3 separate regions of the Homo sapiens genome follow, and regions 2 and 3 are each linked to region 1. Evidence: fine-mapped expression QTL. A gene starts in region 1. Each other region holds a variant in brackets. All regions are shown on one strand. Distances are between the middles of the regions.

Evidence for each region. PIP is the estimated chance that this variant, and not a neighbour inherited with it, causes the effect.
Region 2: its variant is fine-mapped to the expression of PCA3 in cerebellum (GTEx, PIP above 0.99).
Region 3: its variant is fine-mapped to the expression of PCA3 in cerebellum (GTEx, PIP 0.96).

The regions. Positions count from the first base shown.
Region 1 is chr9:76,759,676-76,767,862 of GRCh38, forward strand. It overlaps PCA3 (prostate cancer associated 3), which reads left to right and starts at 4,763. Exons shown (of 4, transcript NR_132312.2): 1 at 4,763-4,880. All of the region lies in intron 6 of PRUNE2 (prune homolog 2 with BCH domain), which reads right to left.
Region 2 is chr9:76,732,901-76,741,087 of GRCh38, forward strand. All of the region lies in intron 6 of PRUNE2 (prune homolog 2 with BCH domain), which reads right to left. Among named protein-coding and RNA genes, the nearest start is that of PCA3, 27 kb to the right of the region's middle. The variant G/A (reference allele first, on the strand shown) is at 3,715.
Region 3 is chr9:76,611,297-76,619,483 of GRCh38, forward strand. It overlaps PRUNE2 (prune homolog 2 with BCH domain), which reads right to left. Exons shown (of 19, transcript NM_015225.3): 18 at 8,044-8,091; 19 at 80-3,304. The coding sequence ends at 3,274. The region is part of intron 5 of LOC105376095 (a long non-coding RNA gene); the gene reads left to right. Among named protein-coding and RNA genes, the nearest start is that of PCA3, 150 kb to the right of the region's middle. The variant C/T (reference allele first, on the strand shown) is at 3,896.

The DNA.
Region 1 (8,187 bases):
TACCATCTTTCAATTTATCCATGTGGCCTGATTCTTCCTGGATGCTGGACAAGAACCCAGGTACCAAGAGGGCACTGAGCTGGTTAACACTTAAGCCATCTGTGGACTGCAGAGTTAAAAGAGCACTGTAGCATGCCCACTGGGGCTTTGGGAGTCACAGGCACCCAGCCCTAGATGCTACCACGGGGCCGGAGCCCAGAAGCACTCGCCCTGGCTCCTGCACCTGCCCATCTGCGTGCTCCTCCTCCCATAAGGGGTTTGAGCACACAGCTGCCAAACAGATGAGCCACACCCCTGTCACACGTCCTGCGAGGGCAGTCAGGGAATTCTCCAGTTTCACTTCCTTTGTACACTAACATAATAATAGTTATCCCCTACAATTTAAATAAATTAGTTTAAAAAGCTGGTGCACTTGGCAAAGAGCTTGTCCATTGGCTCTAATCTGGCTCCTTGGTGTAGAAACAGGGCTGCCTTCCTCTTCCCTGGGTACCTGGCAGTTGGGGTCTGTTGATGGTACTGCAACCTGAGCACCCGGCACACAGCAGGCACTCCGTATATGTTTCTGAATGAATGGATGGATATCAAAACCATACTCACATTTTCTCCATCACACACCAGCTACTTCCCTGGTACCCTTTTGTCCATTACTGATGCTATAGGATATTATTTCTATCATTTTCTTTTCCTCATCACCTAGGGCAGATATTTTGGAGTCACCCTTGATATCACTGCTCCCCCATATCAGTACCAAAGATTCTTCTCTTTTTCTCTAATCTACTTTTTCCCTTCTTACTTTAATAATTCCAGGTCACATGCTTATGACTTGTATCCAAAACCATTAGAATAACCTCACTGCTCTTCCTGACATCTGTTTACCCTGCATTAGTCCACACTACATGCTGCATCCAGATTAATCATCCTAACTATGACCATGATTTTAGCCAAAAGCCCCCCAAAAGGAACAGGTATCACAGTATTCCACATCACAGCCACGTCCTACCTCTCCACCCTCATCTTCTATGTGTCCTTCTAGACTCACTCTACTTCAACCAAGCCGAAAACCCTGGCTCTCTACATGCATCTTAGATTTACTGCATTCATGCCTAGCAAGAAACCTGTACATGTCCAGACTCGGGCCGGGCGCGGTGACCTGTAATCCCAGCACTTTGGGAGGTGGAGGTGGGTGGATCACTTGAGGCCAGAAGTTCGAGACCAGCCTGGCCAACACTGCGAAACTCCATCTCTATTAAAAATACAAAAATTAGCCGGGTGCGGTGGCCCATGCCTGTAGTCCCAGCTACTTGGGAGGCTGAGGCACGAGAATTGCTTGAACCCAGGAGGCAGAGGTTGCGGTGAGCCGAGATCACACCACTGCACTCCGGCCTGGGTGACAGACTGAGACTCTGTCTCAAAAAAAAAAAAAAAAAAATACTCAACAGAGGTTTGCTGAATTTAATCCAACCAAATTTAATAGAATTGCCTGAATCTTTATGCTGAAAAATGAATCTGAATTAGAAGCCTCATTTGGGGAGTTTAAATCTACCTCATGCCTTTCTTCCTCCTCCACCATTGGTCCTGTCTTCTGTGAGATTGCTGCCCCATCTTTTTTTTTCTTGAGTCATAATACACAAACTGGTCAGAAGTGGAACACACCATCAAGGAAGGGGTGATGCATCTGTGAGGAACAGTCACCTATATTTGTGTAAGTCAGACAATTCTCATTTGATAAAATGGTGTCGACAAAAATTAATCATCTATATACCTCAAGTCTATGTTTAGGGGCCTTTAATCCCCAAATAACAAAAGACTTAGTCAATTTAATTTGTAAGAATTCTACTTTTGTAGACCTGAACTGGATACAATTTTATCTCTGGACATCAAAGCCCGGGGTCAAATGATTGCTTTTCTCTTTTGCTGGGAGTTTTTGTTGTCATGTTTTATACTTTAGACATTTTACTTTTGGTCACTAGGTGGCTCTGAATTTCCATTAGAAAGTGAAAGTCTTTAGAAAACACTGGAAAACATACATAATTTTCACCAAATAATTTTAAAATACTTCATTCAACAATGATTGACTTGAGAATATTAATCAAAGTTTATCAAAAGACCCATAAACTCCAAATAGCACTCTGTCAATCTATCTTATGTAGATTTTGAGATAGATTATTTATAGCTTTACATGAATTATAGCTTTTGCATTGGTTATAGGTACAATTTTTAAATGATTCATAAACTCTGTTCCAAATAATGCCACTCTGGAGCTATATCATATTATGTATCATGTATGGTCAAACAACTGGGTCCGTCATATTTAAAAGACAACTTCAAAATACTGTCATATAACTTTAATGGCTTTAAAGTCTTTCCTAAGTGTACTTTAGCAGCCTCCAATGCATCTGGTGCCAACTCTGAAATCATTTTTAAGGTTAGCAATTTTAAACAAAAAGAATGGTTAGAACAAGGACCTTTAGCCAGTTTGGAAGTCACCAACAGTTTCCTTCTGTTGTTGGAAAAAGTGATTTCTTTGCCCTGAGTTCTACAACAACCATTAAATGTGCTGCATTTGACTCCTGTAAAGATTTAACTTTTTTCCAAATCTTTAATGACAATACTCTCTGTTATTTCATCAAAAAGTGTGTTAACATAGGAAGCAGTGATCCAAAGTCATTTCCGGATAACCTATTAATAAGGGAGGCAGGAATGGCGGTTGCAGAAATGTGCGCAGAGAGAGCAACTACCATGGGAATAATCCAGATGGCGGTCTGCTTGGCTCGAACTTTCTGGAAGAGGCCCATCTTTAAAATGCTTAATACCACTTTTTACTATAGATTCCACACATGTTCATTTCTTAACAAACTCTGAGAGAGGTGGTGAGATACTCTTGCAGTAATTTTACCCCCAGCCCCCTGGACCATCCTTTTCAAACTCTCCAAACTCTCCACGTTTCTTTTTACATGTTCAAAATGCAGGCAGTGTAGAATGACTGTCTGTGGCTCCTCCAGTCCTAGCTCTTGTATGGAGGCGGAGGTCCCTACATACACGACCACATGAGATTGAGCTCCAGAGTCAGGCCCTTCGCCATGAGCATGGCTGTGGACACGTAAGGAGCCTCAGTGGCTCCACAACTTGGCAATCTTAATCCAAACAAACCAGGTAAAACGTTTTTAGTTGGACTCAAGATAAATCCCAGGCAGAGCAATCCTCAAAAGAAACCAGCAAACTGGATATTTGGTTTCTGATTTACAATTTTTTTAAAACAGACAAAATAGCTTCCTTCACTCCCCACTGTGTCTTTGGCTCCAACCTCATTGAATGGTTGCCATTTCTGAGACACATCCTCTACCGCAAACCTGCACTCCTCCCACCTCGTGCACCATCTCCCCTTCTAGCTCCATCTGGCAATGTGTACTTTTCCTCAAGTCCTGTGTCAAACGATGTGAAGACTGAGGTCTTCTTCTGGTCGGGGCAGCATTATAGCATCATGACAAAAAGCCCAGGTGCTGCCTGCACTGGAAGTCAAGTCAATTACTGGTCATGAGATCTTGAGCAAGTTACTTAATTTCAGTTGCCACATCCATAAAATGGGATCATAGCAGGACTACTGGTGTCACAGAGTTACGTGAGGTTTAAATAAGTTACCTTAAAGGACTTAGTACAGTACCTGGTATACTATGTGGCTTAAGTATTAATAGGCTTTGCAGTAAGTGTAGTCATCTAAGTGAGCCATAACAAGCATAGGCGTGCTTCTGGGAGTGCTCACCCCAAGTCTGAATTAGACGCAACTACTCTCTACTCTCCTGGAGAAAACATACTCGTAATACCACTTCAAACACAAGCTGGTGGTGTACTTGCCCAGTTCTACCAATGAACTGGGATGACACAAAAGTAATGAACAGATGAAGTTTCATATCCCCCGTCCCCAAGAGAGGATCTGGTGTCGTCTATTTAGCTTCCTTGCCTCTCCTGTGCTCTCTGAGGACTGAGAGATTAAAAGCCACGTTGGTGGATACTGCAGAAGAGCAGGTGGGGAGGAGAATGGTATGGCAGTGACAGGAAGTGCTGGGAGGCCCAATATGGAGAAGGAGAGGGGTAGTGGGGAAGAGGGAGTGGGATAAAGGGCATGGGGAAGCATGGGGAAGAGGGAGCTTTCTTCTGTGTTTAGACAGTGAGAGGTGCCCATGAGTCAATAAATAAAAGAGGAAAGGAAATTTAATGAGTTGCCATGGACTAAGCACTTCGATTGAGTTACACTGTTTGAAAGATATTAGTAAAGATGGGAACTCACATTTGGACAAGACTTCACTAGAGGAGCACCTTAGGAATTGACCTGTGGATCTCAACTTCGTTAGGGTTAAAAGATTATTTGTTGGGCAAGGGTAGGACCAATAACCTCATTCACAATGCATTCATTGATTCGTTGATTCACAGAGCAAATACTTCTGAACAACTCCTGTGTTTCTGGCACTGTTCTAGGCACCAGTGATATAGGAGCCAACAAGACAGACATGTCACTGCTCTCATGGAGCTGCATTTCAGTGCATGGAGGCAGAAAACAAACAAACAAATAAATAAATAAATAAATAAATAAGATAATTTTTAATAGCAACGTGTCAACATAGTGTGACGGGAAGGAGCATGATGAGACAGAAGGAAGGTTTAAACTGGGAAATCTGAGAAATGGTATGGTTGTATGTGGGTTGGCATTCTTGCATGATGGGAGTGGCCACCTGCTTTCATATTCTGAAGTCAGAGTGTTCCAGACAGAAGAAATAGCAAGTGCCGAGAAGCTGGCATCAGAAAAACAGAGGGGAGATTTGTGTGGCTGCAGCCGAGGGAGACCAGGAAGATCTGCATGGTGGGAAGGACCTGATGATACAGAGGTCTGTAGGCCATGGGAATGGGTTTGGAATTTTATTCAAAGAGCTATGGGAAGTGACTAGAAGGTTTAAAGTTGGGGAAGAGGTTTTGTGTTTCTGTTATATTTGTGTTTTATACAAATTACTCTGGTTGCTGTGTTGATAGGACAGCAGAAGGGTAGGAGCAGGGACACCAGTTAAGTTATTGCAATGGTTAAGGTGAGAGGTGGTGGCTGGGCCTAGGCCTTTTTGGAGTGAACAAGCTATTTGCTTGGCTTCCATGATCCTTCTCCCTCCACTGGAATGGAAGGTACTTGATATTAGAGATTTTTGTCTGTTTCATCACTACTGTAACCCCAATGTCTACAACAGACTCTGGCACATAGAAGACACTTGTTTAATGTTGCTGACTAACTATACTGAGAGAGAAGAATGATGCAGAGCAGATTTAGAGAAAAAGTCAAAGGTTCTGTTTAGCACATGTTAAATTTGAGATACCCATTAGATATTTAAATGGAGATATCAAGCAGGCAAGTTAGAGATATACGTTTTGAGTTCAGTAGCAGATGTACATTTGTTGGGGGCGTGACATTAACATATAACCACTTAGAGTGGACATGCAGTTAGAGAAAAGTCAATGAGCTGGAACCAAGCTGGGAATTCCAACATGTAGAAGTTAAACACAAGAGGAGGAGCCAGCAAAGGAAACAGAAACAGAGCTTCCAGCAGGTGGGGGGCATTTGGAAGAAAACGATGCCATAGAAGCCAAGATGAAATAGACATCAAGGAGAAGGAAGTAGTCAATTGTTTTGAATGCTATGAAGAAAGATAAGAATAGGTAAATAGTCCTTATATTTGATAACAGAGGTCACTAGTGATCTTGATGAGGGGTTTCAATAGAATGGTGGGATTATATACCTCCCTGGATTCAACTGAGGTAAGGAAGGCATACAGAATAGAGACAGGCACTATAAACAGCTCTCATAATTGCATTCTAGCAATTAGCACACTGTCTGATGGGGAGGTGGCTCAATCTTTCTTGCATAACTGAATGAATGAGTAAACTATCTATCCATCCATCTATCCATCCATCCCTCCACCCATCCTTCCCTCCATCCATCCATGGGGTTTGAGCCTTCAAATGTAGAAGGCACAGCCTTATCTAGTGAGAAGACATTTGGATTAGGAGTTAAGAGACAGAATCATACATCCACAGTCACTGTTTAGCTTTCTGAACTTGTCCAAACCAGTGCTTTTCTGGGACTCACTTTCCTTATCTATGAAATGGAGAGGTTAGTTTAGATAACCTCTAAGATCCAGCTTTAAAATTCTTGACTGAAGGCCTAACCTTTAGAAATATCTCGTTAGAGGCCAGACGCGGTGGCTCACGCCTATAATCCCAGTACTTTGGGAGGCCAAGGCAGGCTGATCACGAGGTCAAGAGATTGAGACCATCCTGGCCAACATGATGAAACCCCGTCTCTACTAAAAATACAAAAAAAATAGCCGCGCGTGGTGGCAGGCACCTGTAGTCCCAGCTACTTGGGAGGCTGAGGCAGGAGAATCGCTTGAACCCTGGAGGCGGAGGTTGCAGTGAGCCAAGATTGCGCCACTGCACTCTAGCCTGGGTGACAGAGCAAGACTCTGCCTCAAAAAAAAAAAAAAAACTCTTTAGAAATATACCAAAGTAAATGCAATATCATTTTTGATTTTTACAAACTAGCTTCAAGCAGAAAAGACAAAAGCTTCAGGGGATACCATATGTTCACTCCCCAGGCAAAGCCTATCTGTGTGGGATTAATGACAGCATTGAGTGGGTGGCTGTGTGCCTTGTGGGAGAATACGTTACTAATGGTCACTGGAAGAAAAGGAGTCAGCTTTCTCTTTTCTTATGTCTTTAACGATGCTTAACTCTCCCTTATTTAAAATAAAACACATATTAGATTCTGCATCTGAACCAACATTAACATTCCATTTCTTTCTGCTAAATTAACTTTCTTGGACAACTGGATCATGTTCATGGATAGTGCCTCTCCCATCCACTTTTTCTGGGAATCTTGCTTTCCTTCCATGTTTTGGTCCTTACATACCTCCCTCGTTTCATCCTGCGCCACTTCCCCCCAATCACAGAGGTCCAGTCACACTCGTCTTCTTCAAACATGTCAATTTTGCTCCTGCTTTAGGGCCTTAGGATTTGCCATTTCTTCAGCCTGAAATGTACAATCCCCAGATTTTTTCATGTGTAGCTTCTTATCACATAGGGAGTCCAAACATCACTTTCTCTGTGAGGGCTTTCTCTCCAAAGCACTGTTCTGCGGTCCAACCCTACCACTGTCACTGTCAACTCATACACAGGCATACACATACACAACGCATACACATGATCACTATTCAAAATGACCATTTTCCTTATTTATTGTTTATCATCTACCTCTCCCACCTCGCCACACCTTCCCCCCAAGGCGAAGGTAGGCTTCGTGAAATCTTAACCTTGCCTGTCTTATTCACTGCTGTATTCTGGTATAGCGTCTCCAACATACTTACTGATGAATAAATATCTGTTTAACAAATAAACTCTCTCTCCTCTACTGAAACTATTGTTGGCAGTCACCAAGGACCTATTCAAAACAGAATCTTTGGCCAGGCACTGTGGGTCACGCCTGTAATCCCAGCACTTTGGGAGGCCGAGGTGGGCAGATCACTTGAGGTCGGGAGTTCAAGACCGGCCTGACCAACATGGTGAAACCTCGTCTCTACTAAAAATACAAAATTATCTGGGCATGGTGGCACACGCCTGTAATCCCAGCTACTCGAGAGGCCGAGGCAGGAGAATAGCTTGAACTCGGGAGGCAGAGGTTGCAGTGAGACAAGATTGTGCCACTGCGCTCCAGCCTGGGCAAAAAGAGCAAAACTCTGTCTCAAAAAAAAAAAGAAAGAAAGAAAAAAGCACAGATTCTTTATTTTCCTTGCTTTCCACTTCTTCCTTGCCCTTGACTCCATTGATCACCTCTTTAAAAAGAAAAAGAACTATTTTCCAGAACCTTCGCTTCTGTGACTGCATGACACTACTCTCATGGTTGTTTCCCTACCTTCTTTGTTGACTTCTCATCTTCCTCCTCCCCTAACAGGAGGCACCTTAAAGCCTCATCTCTTGACCCTATTTTGTTTTAATACATATCGTGCATCTCTCGTGAATCTTTAAATGAATCCAGCCTGCCCAGCACAAGTCTATCCAGGGGTGTAAAAACCCAGCTGGAGGGAGTGCACACTGGCTCCTATCTTCTATCCGAACACTGTCCTTTTCGGTGTTTTCAGCATTACCCTTCCATGC
Region 2 (8,187 bases), 27 kb before region 1:
AGGCCACCAACAGACCACCGATTTCTCTTGGCAAGAGGGAAAGAGGAGTTTACAAAAATACCTCAGAAGACAGAACTGGACATCTGCTTCTCGTCTCCATTGCTGCCATTTATATAGATTTTTTTAAATTTCTGAAAGTAGTTAGGTACCTGGTTACTTGGGGAAATAACGGTAGAGTCATTTTTCTACCTGCTGAGAGAGATCGGTCTTCTGCCTGAGTAGCCACAGGTATGGGTGCTTGCTCCTGCATCACAGTACTCAGCCTCCCCCAGTACCACCCAACACACACAATACAGCACTGCCCCAACATCAAGAAAACAGATGGCAACATCTTCATGGACTGAAGTGCTACTGCACATCAACACAGCTTCATGGACTGAAGTGCTATATTGCACATCAACACAGCTTGTTCCAGACCACAAATATCTGACTTCATTCCTTGGCTCTCTAGTGTCTTTGCAATACTCATAAACCACAGATTCATTCATTCATTCATTCATTCATTCATTCATTCATTCATCTATTTGAGACAGGGTCTCACTCTGTTACCCAGGCTGAAGTGCAGTTGCACAGTCACAGCTCACTGCAGCCTTGACCCTCTGGGCCCCAGTGGTCCTCCCACCTCTGCCTCCCACGAAGCTGGGACTACAGGCACGCCTGGCTAATTTTTTTTTTTTTATTTTTTGTAGAGACAGGGTTTCATTATGTTGCCCAGGCTGGACTTGAACTCCTGAGTTCAAATGATCTGCCTGCTTCGGCCTCCCAGAGTGCTAGGACTACAGGCATGAGCCATAGCACTTGGCCCTATGAACTTTGTACAATATCAGAGGTAAGACAATTAATTAATTTGCCTGTACAATATCAAGAGGTAAGATAATTAATTAATTTGCCCTAATCTTCACACAATTCACAGAACAGGAAAATATAATAACTGTCATTTTACTCTTAGGGTTTTTCCTGCTACTGACTTTGTGATCCAAAAAGATTTTTTTTTAAAGCAGTCTGTTCCTTAAAAGTTTTAGTTGTTTTTTTTTTTTCTTTGAAAGATGGATAACGTTAATGATTTCAGTAATCCTGTAGCCAAAAACTAGTTTGATTATCAAAGAACAGTGTTTACTGAATGCCTTCTATGTAGGGGATTCAGGTTATTCAATGGAAGGGCTACTCAAGTCTGGGCATCATGAAAATGAGTTGATTTGTCTGTTTCCAGATTTGGCAGCATTCAAACACTCAGAAGTCCACAAAAAGGACCTCCCTGGAGGTTCCACAGAAGATCTCCCCTCCTTCTGTGGAAAGGAGGGGCTGGGTAGATGTTTGTAAGGTGCCTTCCAGTTCTGATATTCAATGATTTAATAATCCTAAAATGGAAAGACGTTCAGGAGGTAGGGGTCGAATCAGGGACAGAGGAGAAGGTGGTACAAGCACAAAAAAAGTTTAAATTTTAAGATCATCGAACCTACAGGAAAAAAGATGGTGAGATAGTGAAGTCAGGAAGACCCTCTAGCTCTCAAATGAGACAGACTTCTATTTGAATCTCAGCTATGCCACTTCTCATTACACAACTTTGGGTGAGTTACTTAACCTCGAAGCCTTGGTTTCTGTATCTGAAAATGAGAATAATAATACCTACTACATAGTTTATCAACAGGATTAAATGAGATAGTTCATATAAAATGCTAGCAAAGTCCTTGGAATATTAGAAATAACAGTTTAAAATAAAAATGAGTTCAGATTGTCACAGACATAAGCATTTTTGTCTGTCATCCCTTCTTTTGGGGAGGAATCCTCCTAACTTCATATGGCTGACATGGGGCTGTCTTTACCCCTAACCTGAGCTCTAGGTGTGGCAGGTGACCCAGGCCTAGCCATACTCTGTTCCATCCACTTGGCCACGGTGATGGTTTCAGGAATAACATGTGACCTGAGCGAGGCTACTCAAAGACTCCATAGGGGTTTTTGAAGCTCCCTGTTCCTCTGAGACACGGAGATCTAGGATCACATGAGTCTAGAGCTGCCCAGAGCCATCCTGGAGAGTCATGGAGAGAGGAGTGTCCCTGAGGATGAGGACAACACTGACAAACAGAGGCAAGGGGTGGAGAAAAAAGGCAAGCCCTGGAGCTACCCAGAGCCATCCTGGGGAGTCATGGAGAGAGGAATATCCCTGAGGACAAGGACAACACTGAGAAACAGAGGGAAGGGGTGGAAAAAAGGCAAGCCCTGATGGCACACTTGGAGTTTGAGTCCAAGAGTATCAGAAGCTAGATCTATCCTGGATTATCAACAGAGCAGTTTGTTGTTTTCCTTAAGCAAAATTGAGTTGAATTTCTGTCACTTACAACTGAAGAATAGAGAGATGAGGCCACAACTTATGAAAACCTACTGATTATAATCAGAGAAATGAACATTTGCAGGAGCAGAGGCCACACAAAGAGAAAAGCTTTTCTTCCAAATTATTACTTGTTTACGTTTTAGAAGCAGAGTCCCCCACATTTTATTGAGGAAGATAGTTTTCTTTCTTCTTTTTTTTTTTTTTTTTTTATGCCAGTTATGACTAGCAGCTAGCCCCGTAGTGGCTGACAATTAAGTTACCGAGATACCAAAAGAACTGGGGCTCCTACCAGCTGGACTCCTACGAGCCCAGAACAAGGGAATAGCAGGAGTAACTGGAAGGCTGACCATGGAAGACTTTAGGATCACTCATTAGGCTGCACCAGCCTAAGAAGCTTCCATCAAACAAAGGTTGATATTATCATATGCAAAGAATCAAAACTTAAAAGTGTAACAATACTTAAAGAGAAAGTAAAATTTTATGTCTATAGAACAATATTGGCTTTTCTACATATGATCAAAATAATCTTAATTGATGTTCACCAATTCTTTAGCTGGTAGTAAGATAAGAATTGGTGATACCCATTTAACAGATGAGAAAGCTGAAGCTCAAAAAGCTTCAAAAATATTCCCAATATCATACATAGTTATTTGATGCTGGAGCAGGAACTGGAACCCAAGTTTTCTAAGCTTTATTCTAGTACATTTACATGCGTCATTTGTTCTCATTTGAGGTTGGGCATCATATCTGATAAGAACATACAAGGAAATTTCTTATTTCACATAACATTATCTTTTAATCATTTTTCATTCCCTTACTGTAATCTAAGGAGAAAATATGAAATACCAAATTTGCATAGCTGATGAAAATATTTTTCAGCCTTAGAGATTAGTAGGGTTTGTGTGAGTGTGTGTGTGTGTGTGTGTGTGTGTATTCAAAATTTGTAAAGGGATACTTTTTCTATATACTTATTTTCAGAAATAGTATAAGCACTCTGGTGGTATGCTTTCAAGAGACTCAATGTGGGTGTGTGAAAAAAAACCACATAAAGTAAAATCAGGCACAATGTCATATGACATACTTTATGCTATGGATAATTTCTGGTCTGGTATCTAAAAGAAAGAGGAAGTTCCAGTGTAAACCTCTAGAAGGAAAACAAAATGAACAGAAGGTAAATAATTTAAGAATGGTGTGTTAGTCCATTCAGGTTGCAGTAAGCAAATAACACAAACTGAGTAGCTTATAAACAACAGAAATTTATCTTTCACAGTTCTGGAAGACGGAAAGTCCAAGATCAAGATCCTGACATACTCGCTGTCTGATGAGCACCTGCCTCCTGATTCATAGGCTGCCATCTTTTTGCTGTGTCCTCACGTGACAGAAAA[G/A]GTGAGGTTCTCTCTGAGGTCTCTTTTATAAGGGCAATAATCCCACTCATGGGGGCTCTGGCCCCATGACATGATCACCTCCCAAAGGCTCCACTTCCTAATACTATCATTTTGGGGATTTGGATTTTAACATATGAAGTTTGGGGCAACACAAACATTCAGACCGGCGAGTAGGGAGAAAATAAAGCACTTCTTTGTACATGACTTCATTCTTGGGCTTCCTAGTATTCCAGTACCTGAACATGGCAGCAGAAGAGGTCTAAATGGAAGCAATTATTGTATTATCTATTGCCTCATACAGGTTTTGAGAACCACAAGCCTTCCTACCCTCCACACTGACCCGGGAAAGGTGGGGCCACTCTATGTGGTGCAGCATCCTTCTTTATGGGACAGTATAAGATGGTAAATGGAGAGGCTACCCCATTTCTGTTCGCACACAGTTCTGCTGTCATCAACAGCAGCCAAGTTCTTTTCGTGTGTAGCTGTATTCCTTCTTGATGAGATAAAACTAAGAAATGTGCTCAATTGTAGCCTTGCTGTATAGAAAGCACAAGAGGCTACCTTGTACCTTCTCTTCCTTATTTACAGGTTAGAGTCTATTTATTAGTAAGCTGCCAGGTTGATGAGTCAAGGAATTATGAAGCTCTGGCAGTTGCTTGCCTCCAGCCCCATCCTTTCTTGAGACAAGCACAGATGAGCATTCAAACCAAGCTCAATATTGAATCACTGGCAGTGCTCGACTGTTCTGCTAACATCAGTGACAGCAGAAATTTATAGACACCGCTGCAGGGCAGCACATATAGGTGTGGAGTGCATGACCATACAAAAATATTACAGGTCCCGTATTCAGAAACTGTACCAGGAGCTATCTACTTTAGCAACATAGCCTCAGGTACAAATTTACATGCAAGAATTCATATTCTACCAAATAAATCCCAGGCAAACAGAGTAATGCAAAAACATATTTCCTGCTGTCAAGAAAATTTCTGGCAAAATTAATCAACCATTCATCCATTCAGGCTCTTTGCATACCCTTTTGTCAAAGAGGGAATACTAAGAGATTTCTTTTCTCTTCCATGCACTCATTTCAATGAATTGAAGAATCCATCAAGCTTGAGTTGATTTATTGAACTGTCTCTTGGCTCAGCAGTACAACTACAGCAAATGAACTGGTAACTTCTCCTAAAACCAGCAGTGATTCAATTCAACAATATCTGATTTATTTAACTCTTTATAATTCCAGATTTAACTTATTTTTGCATTTCTAAGCAGAACAATTTTTTGGATAAAACCTTGCATATTTGCATGCATTATTTAGTATTCTGAAAGCAGTGATTAAAACATACAGAGCCTAAGACTTCTTCTTTTAAGAGACTTTAATAGCACATTTAAATTAGGTAGTTTTTTAAACAACGACTTATTTAAATACCTACAGCTGTGTTTTAAATGTTTCAAAGTGTTTTTTTTCTGGTGGTTAATGTTAATATTAACATTAGATGACCAATCACTTTGGTTTAGAGCACTAAAAACATACAAAATGCTTATTTTTGTATTTAATCATTCTACCAGGTAAGGAGAATCACTGTGAGGGGATATTTAAGGCGTAAACATTAGCGAGCAACCGAGCTGACTGTTTAAACACGGGTTTTTTCACTAAATCGCGTCCACTGAGCCCCATGGAGCCCATTTATCACACAACCAACTTTGCATTTTTCTTTGTAAAGATGTACGACCTTTGCCTATTAGATTTCATTAGCAGGGCACCATACAAGGCTCCTTTGCACATGGCAGGATAGAAAGCTCAACATCCTCGCCTCGAGGATTTGTGGGAACAAGCTCGTCTTCAATCTTTGTCCCTGGGAGGCACTTTTAACACCTGCCAACCATAGCACTATCATCAGAAAAACATTTAGAGATTTATCTTCGGGCTGGTAATTATAAGAGATAATTTGTTTGGAGTATGGATAAAGTTGGTCTAGCATAAACAAACTAGAGGCTCAAATTACATGATGAACATCATTAACTATTGATTTAACCACTGCAGGTCTGCAGGCTCACTGACACTCTCTGAAGATGGCGGGTTCCTAAAAAGTCATGAGAGTTGAGGGATGCATTTCAGTGTATGCTCAGAGACATCATGGCTTTCATCATCTTCCTTCTTCTTCTGAGTAACCAACTCTAGGTAACCTCTGTTTAGAAGTCTGAACATTAAGCACAAAAGAATTATTTGATACTTCTCATGTTTTAGAATTGAAATTACTTTGCTTTAGGAAGATTTTTAGAGGGATGAAGTCAAAGGTAGCATGTGTCATAGAGCACATTAACCTTTCAAAGCCCTTTGAAAGACTTTGAAATATATTATTATCTTATCACAGCCTCATAATCACCCTGTGAAGTGGGCAGAGCTGGTGTTGGAATCCAATTTTATAAGAAAACTGACACGGGGAGGGAGCTAAGAGCTTAAGGGCCTCAACCAAACTACATTACGCATGGATTACCTCGTATATTCCACTATTCTTATCCCATTTTCCACAAAGAACACCAAACTGCAGAAGTAAAACAGGATACTAAGGAGGAAGAGAAAAATCTCATGGACAAATATATAGTAGATGTAAAAATAAATGCTAGAGTGCAGGAGTAGAATTCCTGGTTTGGATACCAGCTGTAGCCCATGCAGCTCTGTCATTAAGTAGTGATGTGGCTCGATGTGAAAAGTGACAGCCTCAAGCTCTCGGTTTAGAGCCATGCCTATAAACACAGGAAGTACTCAATAAATGACACTATTAATAGTCTTTAATGCTATCATGAATGATGATAACAAAAAGAATGGGGTTGGCAAGCACCACTGAGCCTTTCCCAAATATAAGTCTATATAATCGCTTACCAGAAATCCCTGGAACCAGGGATATAGTTTGTTACTGAATTTTTTTTTTTTTAATTTGAGAAAGGTAAAATGGTGCTTATAATGTATACTATGAATCAACCCAAGTGAAGCCTAGGGCAGCTCCCCTAAAGCACACAAATATATATGCATCAAAATATATAAAGAGGGATAAAGGCCATAAATATCACATCAGAGTTTGCTGTCAGAGTTTCAAAAGCCCTAGAGTTTTCGGAACTCTTTAGATTTCAAAATTGTAGATGGGGGACTACAGACCTGGATTAATTCTCAATAAAATGTTAACTATCCACCAGGCGCGGTGGCTCATGCCTGTAATCCCAGCTCTTTGGGAGGCCAAGGCAGGCAGATCACGAGGTCAGGAGTTTGAGACCAGTCTGGCCAACATAGTGAAACCCCGTCTCTAATAAAAATACAAAAAATTAGCCGGATGTGGTGGTGTACACCTGTAATCCCAGCTACTCGGGAGGGTGAGGCAGGAGAATTGGGTGAACCTGGGAGGTGGAGGTTGCAGCGAGCTGACCTGGGCGACAGTATGATACTCTGTTTCAAAAAAAAAAACAAAGTTAACTATCAAATATCCAGTGCTCAGTGAAAAAGAGCAGGGATCATTTCTAATTATATGTGGAGGTTAATTTAGAATTAGGCATTGAAGACCGGGCACGGTGGCTCACGCCTGTAATCCCAGCACTTTGGGAGGCCGAGGCAGGCGGATCACGAGGTCAGGAGATCGAGACCATCCTGGATAGCATGGTGAAACCCCATCTCTACTAAAAATACAATAAATTGGCCAGGCATGGTGGTGGGTGCCTGTAGTCCCAGCTACTTGGGAGGCTGAGGCAGGAGAATGGCGTGAACCCGGGAGGTGGAGCTTGCAGTGAGCTGAGATCGTGCCTCTGCACTCCAGCCTGGGTGACAGAGCAAAACTCCGTTTCAAAAAAAAAAAAAAAAAAGATTTAGGCATTGAAGGGTCATCTGGCTGAGCCCCAACACGAGTCAATTCAAAGAGAGCCAAAAGGCATTAAAATAAAATTGTATTAATATGAACTCTACTAATTAATACAAATGGTGGATTGTTTGAAATTTGCATTTGCTTTCTCAATGAAAAAACATCTATTGGTTCTCAAATAATGCAAGACAAATGTTTTCCTTGCTTAAGAATAAGAACCCTTTATATTTAATTAAACATTTTTATAATTAAAACATAAATTTTAATATTTAATTAGAATTCCCTCTTAGCTAGTGATCGAGGTAGATAACCAAAATTCCTCTAGTTATCAGGCATCTGTTGGCTGATTGAAGTTATATGTTTCTAAAAGTTAGAAAACTAATTTTGTTTTTTAAATAATCACAAATTCACATCTCACTATTGAGATGGTTTCTCCTAGACACTCTTACATATTGATTTCTCCTACACTTATTTAAATTAGTGATGCTTGAACCCCACATCAAATGAACTCTTTCCTAGAGATAGGGCCACATTAAGATTTCAAAGCTGATTTCTTGTCAAGATTTAAGGGTGAAGAATACACTCACAAAAATTTTAAAATAATCTATGTGTAGGAACCCAAAAA
Region 3 (8,187 bases), 150 kb before region 1:
GATTGATGTTGAGATAAAACTGCTGCAAAGTGAAGCCAGAGAAAAATTCTTGCTGACTCAAAGAAAGAAAACCATCACATGCAGAATCAATTTTTATTTCTGAATTATACAGTGAGGCTATATAGATATATTGTGTCATTAAAGACTTTTATATTATTAATCTACATTATGGAGAATTTATTTACCAAAACGAAGTCTAACAGACACTTTATTCTGAGCAATCCAATGCATGATAGAAAAACCTTTAGATATATAAAAGATTAATTTGTGCACATCTAAATGTTTCTAAGGGAACAAACTACTGAGGCATTGTGATAAGACGAGAGTTGCAAACATAGTACCATAACTGAATATTTAAAATTACATCTTAACAAAGGCTAGGAGTAGTGACTTCCTCACACACCTCAGAGAATGTCTTAGAGAGTAACCCCATAGAACATTGTATGGCTTCAACAGAAACTTCAGGATTTTCTTCCACACTGAGCTACTGCCCTCAAACAAACTTTCTCACTCCTTGACACTATCTTCTGTGCAAATTTCTGTTCTTTCTCTTAATCAAGGAGCTTTGAGAAACAATGCTTTTGCCCCAATGACCCCTTGGTTCCCTTAACTACAGATCTATAGGAGAAATGCAAAGCAGTTCCCAGAAGTCAGAACCAAAGCAAGAATGTTCAGAGTGCAAGAGCTAGAGAGCTAAATCATGTGAATGTTTACCTCTGTCTACCTATCTGCTTAGGGATTATTTTTCTAGGATTCATCTAGGATTCTATTTACTTGGGGTGAATGTACATGGTAGCTTTTCCCTAGCACATGCAATTAAATTAATTTGTCTTTTAAGATAATAAAATAGCAGATACCTAAATATCAGAGTGGTTATGCAGCCTACAGAACAGCTGAAACAAAATCATTGGGACAAATGCCCATAATTTTCATGTAGGAAGATGAGGCTTCAAACAGCATACCACCTGAGTAGTTTTCCATAGATGAGCTGGACAAGTTAAAAATATATATATAAATGGTGAGATTGTTGCTGTGTCTGTTTGGCTATAACAAGAGCCCTCTATGAACAGCTCTATGCCCTCAGGTTTGCACCACTACACTGAACACTGGATTTTTCATTACTTCCTGTGACAGGGTGACCATGGAATTCATTTTACAAAATGGGATGCTACTGAGTGAAAGTAGCAAATAGGTGAACAAACAGGAATATTGGGTAACTGTATTTACGTCAACACTGTGTTCTGGGAGAGGTGTAATTTGGGCTTTCAAAAGTGGAGGTGGGCTGTGGGAGGGGGTGGGCTGTAGGGTTTTTCTGTCCAACAAGCCAGATGTTATGAAGGAGGAGATCCAACAGAACATACAATTCAACAAGATACTCGCTTGAAAGGATCAAGAGGAGAAAAGAGAAAACGATGGAGGCTTATGGAGGAAAGAGGGCTGAACTGCGTGTGTGTGGGCACGTGCGGAAGGACGGGAGGAGACAGAGGTGAAGCAATGAGGTCAGAGAAACTCAATCACCTGTGCAAAGATGTCGACTTTAAAGTAGTTACAAGCTCCTTCTACCCAGGACTCCAAATATCCTGGACAGCTCTCCCCAATGAATTTTCCACCATGAGACTAGGGTGGAACCGCTCTCACCCCTTCATTTTTATTTCTGCCAGCTTCTTTGTAATAGGAGACACTGGAGACTAAGAATGGTTCCCAGAGTGAGGCACGGACTTCAGCCAACACCTGTATATACTAAAGAAGTGCTTCTAAGAAGGCTTCATTTTGGCAATTGCAACCTAAGCAGTGATTTTGTGGCTAGGACTCCTCATGTTTTTCAGCAAGCCATTTCTTTTATTTCACTGTCTGTGGATGTCAAAACATTGATTTTTGACAAAAATAAATTAGTTTGCAGCCTCATTTGTCCGTTCTGTTAGAGAAACTATCTAAATACAAATTGGGGTGGAGTAGGAAAGGATGCGTTTGCTAGAGCAGGGGTCAGCAAACTTTTTCTGTAAACATAGTCAATGTTTTAGGCATTGTGGGACATACGGTCTGCTGAACTGCTCAGCTCTGCGGCTGTAGTGTGAAAGTAGCTGTAGACAGTACAAAAACAAGTTTGTGTGGCTGTGTTTCAGTACCACTTTATTTATCGGCACTAACATTTGAATAATTTTCATGTGTCATGAAATATTCAAAAAAAATTTTTCCAACCCAAAATGTAAAAACCATTCTTAGCTTGCAGTGGTGAGCGAGACTTAGCTGTGGTTTGCCACCCCACCTCACTAGAGGCCTACAGACTTGAAATCTTGTTGGCATTTTAAAGGGCATATGAAGACTATAAAGGAAATATTTTGTACATGAAAGTAATACTCATATTTAATTTTAAGCCTATGATCAGATTACGGTGTTTTAAAGCAGATCACTTTTTATAATGCATGCGAGAGAGGAATTCATGAATAACTGAATGCTACCAAATGATTTTTGAGTAGGCCACCTTGCACTTGAGTTCTTGGCACTTAAAAGGTAACCTCTGGAGCTGAGTTTATGGCCTGAAACTCAGAGAGCTACCAAACATGCAACACGGATTCTTAAATTTCACAATGTGGTGGTCACCAACATTCATCAGGAAAATGATGTTAAAAGACCAATTTACATAAAATATAATGCCCAATTTGACAACTAAAATAAAGTTGACGTGGATTAGAAAGCCCGGCTTCCCTTTGAGAAGTTAAAGGAGATTCTGGTAAACAAGAACAAAACGGGCACTTAGCTGATGATGGTTTTACACCTTGTGTGGTTTGTGGCTGTCCTAGTCAGGCTTAGGATTTTAAAGGTGGAGTCAAACAGGGGAAACTTTCCTGGGGAGAGTTGAGACCTGTGTACTTTAAACCTAATGCAATCACCAAAAGGAAATCCAGCTAATCTATGGAAACAAATCCACTCATACTTAACAGTGGATTAAAGGTATCTTACTGGTAAACACCAGTCTAAGGGACAAAGTATCACTACACCGTGTTAATGAAGTATTGAAATGGAAGGTCCTACTTTCTTGCTAAGGCTCAACTAAAATCTTTGAGGCACATAATTGGCAAAATAGGAAAGTACACACAATTTCATAAAATATCTTAAGAGTAAACAAACTTTCTATTTTTCCCCTTAGAAATTTAGAATGGCACCAGGTAGTGCAAAGTGGAAAAAGGTAACATCAGCCCTGTCTCTTTCAGGTAGATATGTTTCAACAGAACCATGAACCAGAAAAGCATCCTCTTCTTCCAGCATGGCCAACTAAGGCTTTTCTTTCAGCTTCAAGTCAATACTGCAAAGAAAAGAAAAAGAGAGAGAAACATGAGAAACCAAATGAGAGACATTTAGTAATGATTTGGGTAGCACTGTGTTTGCTTTTTTCCTCAAAGGACATACTGAAAATATTTAAATCATGCAAGTTTCTTATAATAGAAAAATCTGGTAAAACCCAATCCTCCTCTTGTCAGGCTTTTCTCCAACATATGAAATCTGTTTAGTTCTACAAAATCGTTTCTGGAAGCATTTTACACCTTTTCAAAATGATCCAGGGAGGTAAAAAACTCATGTAAAGGCTCATTCCCAAAGTCAATTAAGATAAGGAGCATTAGTGTATTCCAGAAATCATGCCATTTTATTTAATAAGTGACCTTTCCTTGTGAAGCAAACAAATGTTCTGCCTCAAGTAAGTAATGTCTGACAAGCACTAAATAGTAAGAAATGGTAAACAACAAAACAACACCAAACATTTTCTAGAAGCCAAAGGAATTGACTGAAAGGGGTTAGCCTACCTTACTGAGATGGATGTTTATAACTAAAGAAAAGCTTGTTTTTCAGAAGGTCAAATGGGTTCCCAAGTATCTGAGGAGTAAGCCTAAAACTCACT[C/T]GAATCACGTCTCTCTTCTGCTTCTTAGTGAACACAGCACAACTTCCTACCGCATCCACCCAAGAGGAAGAAAACCAAAAGCCAGTAAATAGAGGAAGAATTTCAGTTGCGATAAAAGAGAAACTATTAGTTTGCAAAGGGTGATTTGGCACGTATCTGTGGATTTTGCTTATCTCTGCTCCCTGAGCCATAAGCTTGCATGTTGCAAAGGTTACTGTGCTTTACTTGTGGAATTTGCGGCAGCTGAGCAGTGTTCATTCTAGAAGCTTTGCAAATAAAGCCACTGGCAACTCACGCTGCCTGCCCATCCAGTTTACAGTAGTAAAGTATCTTTCCTTTGAAATATAGTCAGCAATTCCGTCACTTATTAGCAGTGGGGACTTGGCCAAGTCACCCACCTTCTCTAAGTTTCCATTTCTGTATCTGTAAAATGGAACGGTCATACCGCTTTCACAGCTTGCTAATGAATAAGTCTAAAGCATTTTCAATTGTACATAATGAACATATCATAATGTCTGTTATTATTAGCAGCAATAGTACCTCGGTGGATTTTTTTTGTTGTTGTTTTGTGTGTGTGGTTTTTTTTTTTTTTTTTTTGAGATGGAGTCTTGCTCTGTCGCCATGCTGGAGCTCAGTGGTGCGATCTCGGCTTACTGCAACCGCCGTCTCCTAGATTCAAGCGACTCTCCTGCCTCAGCCTCCCGAGTAGCTGGGATTACAGGCAGACGCCACCATGCCCAGATAATTTTTTGTGTTTTTAGCGAGACGGGGTTTCACCCTGTTGGCCAGGATGATCTCGATCTCTTGACCTCGTGATCCGCCCACTTCAGCCTCCCAAAGTGCTGGGATTACAGGCATGAGCCAGCATGCCCGGCCCCTCAGTGTTTTTTTGAAATGAGCAAATAGCTCTTCGCTTTATTACCCTACTTGCAACAATCTTGTCTCCTTTGGAAAGCCAAAATCATCATGAATATTTCTAGTTTTCAGGCCCTCTGACTTGTTTTCTTACCTGCAGAGTTTGCTTTAGAGGTATCCTCTTTTTATCCACTGTGACCCCGACATCTTTTTCATATACCTTTACAAAACAGGTCATTTAAAAAATATACTGTTTTTGCTTTTAAAAGGTCCTTCCTGTTCCCGGAAATCTGTAGTAAGTTTGATTTGGTGATTGGAAATTTGATTCTTTCTCTCACGGTGTTGGTTGACTTTTTCCCATAGATGAAGAGAATATTTACTAAACCAAAATTTGGGGCACATCGTCTAAAAACTGCGAGAGTGGGTCAGAATATGTGAAATAGTCTTGGAAGCTTAAAAGAACATGGTCACCTTGTTTCACCATCGGGCCCCTGAGCTAACACTTACACCAGGATGCCCATCTCGATTATTTTTCGTACTGACTTTTTTGTAAATCTTCTAGGATTTAATTCATCCCTTCAGCTTTCGTTAACTCAAAAGCTAAAAGACTGGAACCTGTTTACCCAGTTTATGAAATAAATGAGATAGTCAAAAGTGAACAATTTTCTTGTAAGTAAATACAGGAAACCACTTGGAAGGTTAATATTTGAGAGAACAGCAACGTTGTGGAGTTAACAAAGCTATTAACAATGATGCTAATTTAAGCTTCTTCAAATAGAGCCACTCTTGATCACTGTACTTTAAACAAATATGTAAAAATATAAAAAGGCATGTTGCAAGTTTTGGAACATGAAGAAATTCATAAAATCCAAACCTAAAAGGGAAGGAGACAAGCACCCAGGGCTATTTAAAAATAAATAAATAAATAAATACATAAATAAATAAATAAATAAAAGTATCCTTTTTGGAAAAAAGAATACTTTTAATTAGAATTGAATATTCTTAATCCTCGGGCAAATGGGCTTAGTTTTCTATAAGCAACTTTTTCCTGAGACAGAGCAACCTTCTGATAATTTTACAATAGGCCATTTTTGTGTCTAACACGTATTAAATGAGGTTCCTTACAAACTGTCAGACAATATTGTTTAATGATGAATAAAAACATTTGCATTTTATGTAGAAAGAAGAAAATGGGCATAACCTTCCCTTCTGTCTCTGAGGAAAATGAGAGGCCACTACGATAACAGCACACACTCCATCTTATTCTTGGACTGATCGAGCCCATTGGAAGAACCCTTGCCCATTTTGCAGTGTATTCATTCAACACTAGCTCTGGAAGGTGTAAAATGCTTCCACACAGAATGCTCCTCTGTCCTTGATGGCCTACAGTGTAAAGGTGCCAGAAGAAGTAAATGCAGCCCTTATTCTAATACCAAAGAAAGCCAGAAATCCAGGACTGGAAGTCAGAAAAAAAAAAAAAATTCTTGGTTACTCTTGCCCCTTATCCTGATCTCATCATCCACACTGTGATCTTGTGCCTCTTAAGGGCTCAGGAAAGAGAGGGCTGAAGAAAGGGAAGACTTGAGAAGAATATGTTCTTCTAAAAAGTGGGAAGTAACAATAACAATTTGTAGTATCCCTCCCTCCTCCATGCCCAGCCCTGAAATGAACCCAGACAGGAAGCAATGGTTGCCCTCTTCCCAACCAAACAGCCCTACGTAGGAATAAGAAGCAAGACAGACAAGGCAAGCAAAGAAGTGGGTAAGCCCCAAGATGTAGCAGCGATGGGCCAGCCATTGGCTGGGCTTCCACATGTGCCCTCTCTGCTGCTTGTTAACTGTGGGCTCTGTTAACTGCTCAAGGGGGGTGCTGTTTTGCTGAGGGAAGAAATAGTTGCAAAAAGAATTATCGTGCACTGGGGAATTGAGGTATTATTGCTTTGCAGAATTTCATGTGCCAATTTCCTTGAAGCAATTGTTATCTTCATCTAAAAGAGGTGGGACAACAGTGACCTTTGGAAAAATAGCTGTGTGATTTCAAAGGTCTCTCTATGGTCTTTGTTCTTTTTTTAAAATTTTATTTAGAAAAAATAAATTTTCCTTGCAGAGCAGGGCTAACTCATAGGCATGCATCCAGAATTGGCCCAGTCTTTGCTCTTTGTGAACTTTTTCAGTTGGGACTGTCTCTGGAGTTTTTGTGCCTAAACTTCCTTTAAGTTGCAAGGTCAACATGGCAAATGTGAAGATATTTCACTATAATTTTCCAACTTCCTTTTGGACCTCAACGCAAAGGAGGTCCAAAGACAGCAAAAGGTGACAATAGAGATGAGACACATTTAAAACTGATCTTTCCCCTCTGCTTCCTGATTGCTAGGAACAAGGGCAATGTTAAATTCTCCACAACTCAAACCAAATTGGAAGCTCCTTGTCGGATGACCAAGTTCTCTCTGAAAGCTTGCTGGTGACCACAGTTTATTCCCTGAAACTGACTTGGCCACTAATTCGCTCTGTTCTCTTAGGTGAATAGTTTTGTCTTTCATTAAATTGGAAGTGGTACACCCATCTAGCATTAAGACCACCTCTTTCTGATTTAAAAACCATTGGCCCTGGAGCTATACTGCCAAGGTCCAAATTCCAGCTCTGGGCCATTTTTACAGCTGTAAAACAGTGGGCTGGTCAGATCGTCTCTCCATGCCTCTCTTTCCTCATCTGTGAAATGTACCTCATAAACTTATTCTGAGGATTAAAATCAGACACTGCGTGTGAAGCTTTTTACAGTCTGGAACGTGGTTAAGAACTCACTACATGTCCAATTTCTGCTTCTCACAGGATGGCAATCCTCTAAATAGATCATTCCTACAGTCTCATACAGGCTCGAATTCCTCCTGGATGTTGCAAAACAAGCACATTTTCTCTCCATCCACCAAAGTATTAAATGGAAGTTCCAACTTCCACTAATTAAAATAGAGATGATGTCATTCAGAAAGCAGAATTGCATTCCTCTTGCCCAAATGTTCTTACATCTGGTCCTAATATTCATTTTCTTCCCATTTTTGGATTGGAAAAATAGAATGCCATGTCCACAGGTTGTCCTTTAGAAATTTAAGGGGTGATCGTGAATGAAATGGTGTGAAGCTGGCAAATATAGCTTCAGGTTTCTAATTTCAGGAATGGAGCACAGGAAAGCTGAACATCTAAACAGGGTTTACCCAGTCCTCAGTGTGTTTTCTTTCAGAGCCCAGCCATACAACACTACAAGTAACCACATAGCTGTTATTGATGGTGAATTCTTACTCCTTCTCCATAGAAGACATTTCTGGATCATTGTAAAGGCAGCTAGTTCTGAGTGCAAGGAAAAAATAGGAAGCAGTCAACATTTCCCCACTGTCACCACTGTGAAAGCACAACAGATTTGAGGCATTTGAAACTGTTTAATGT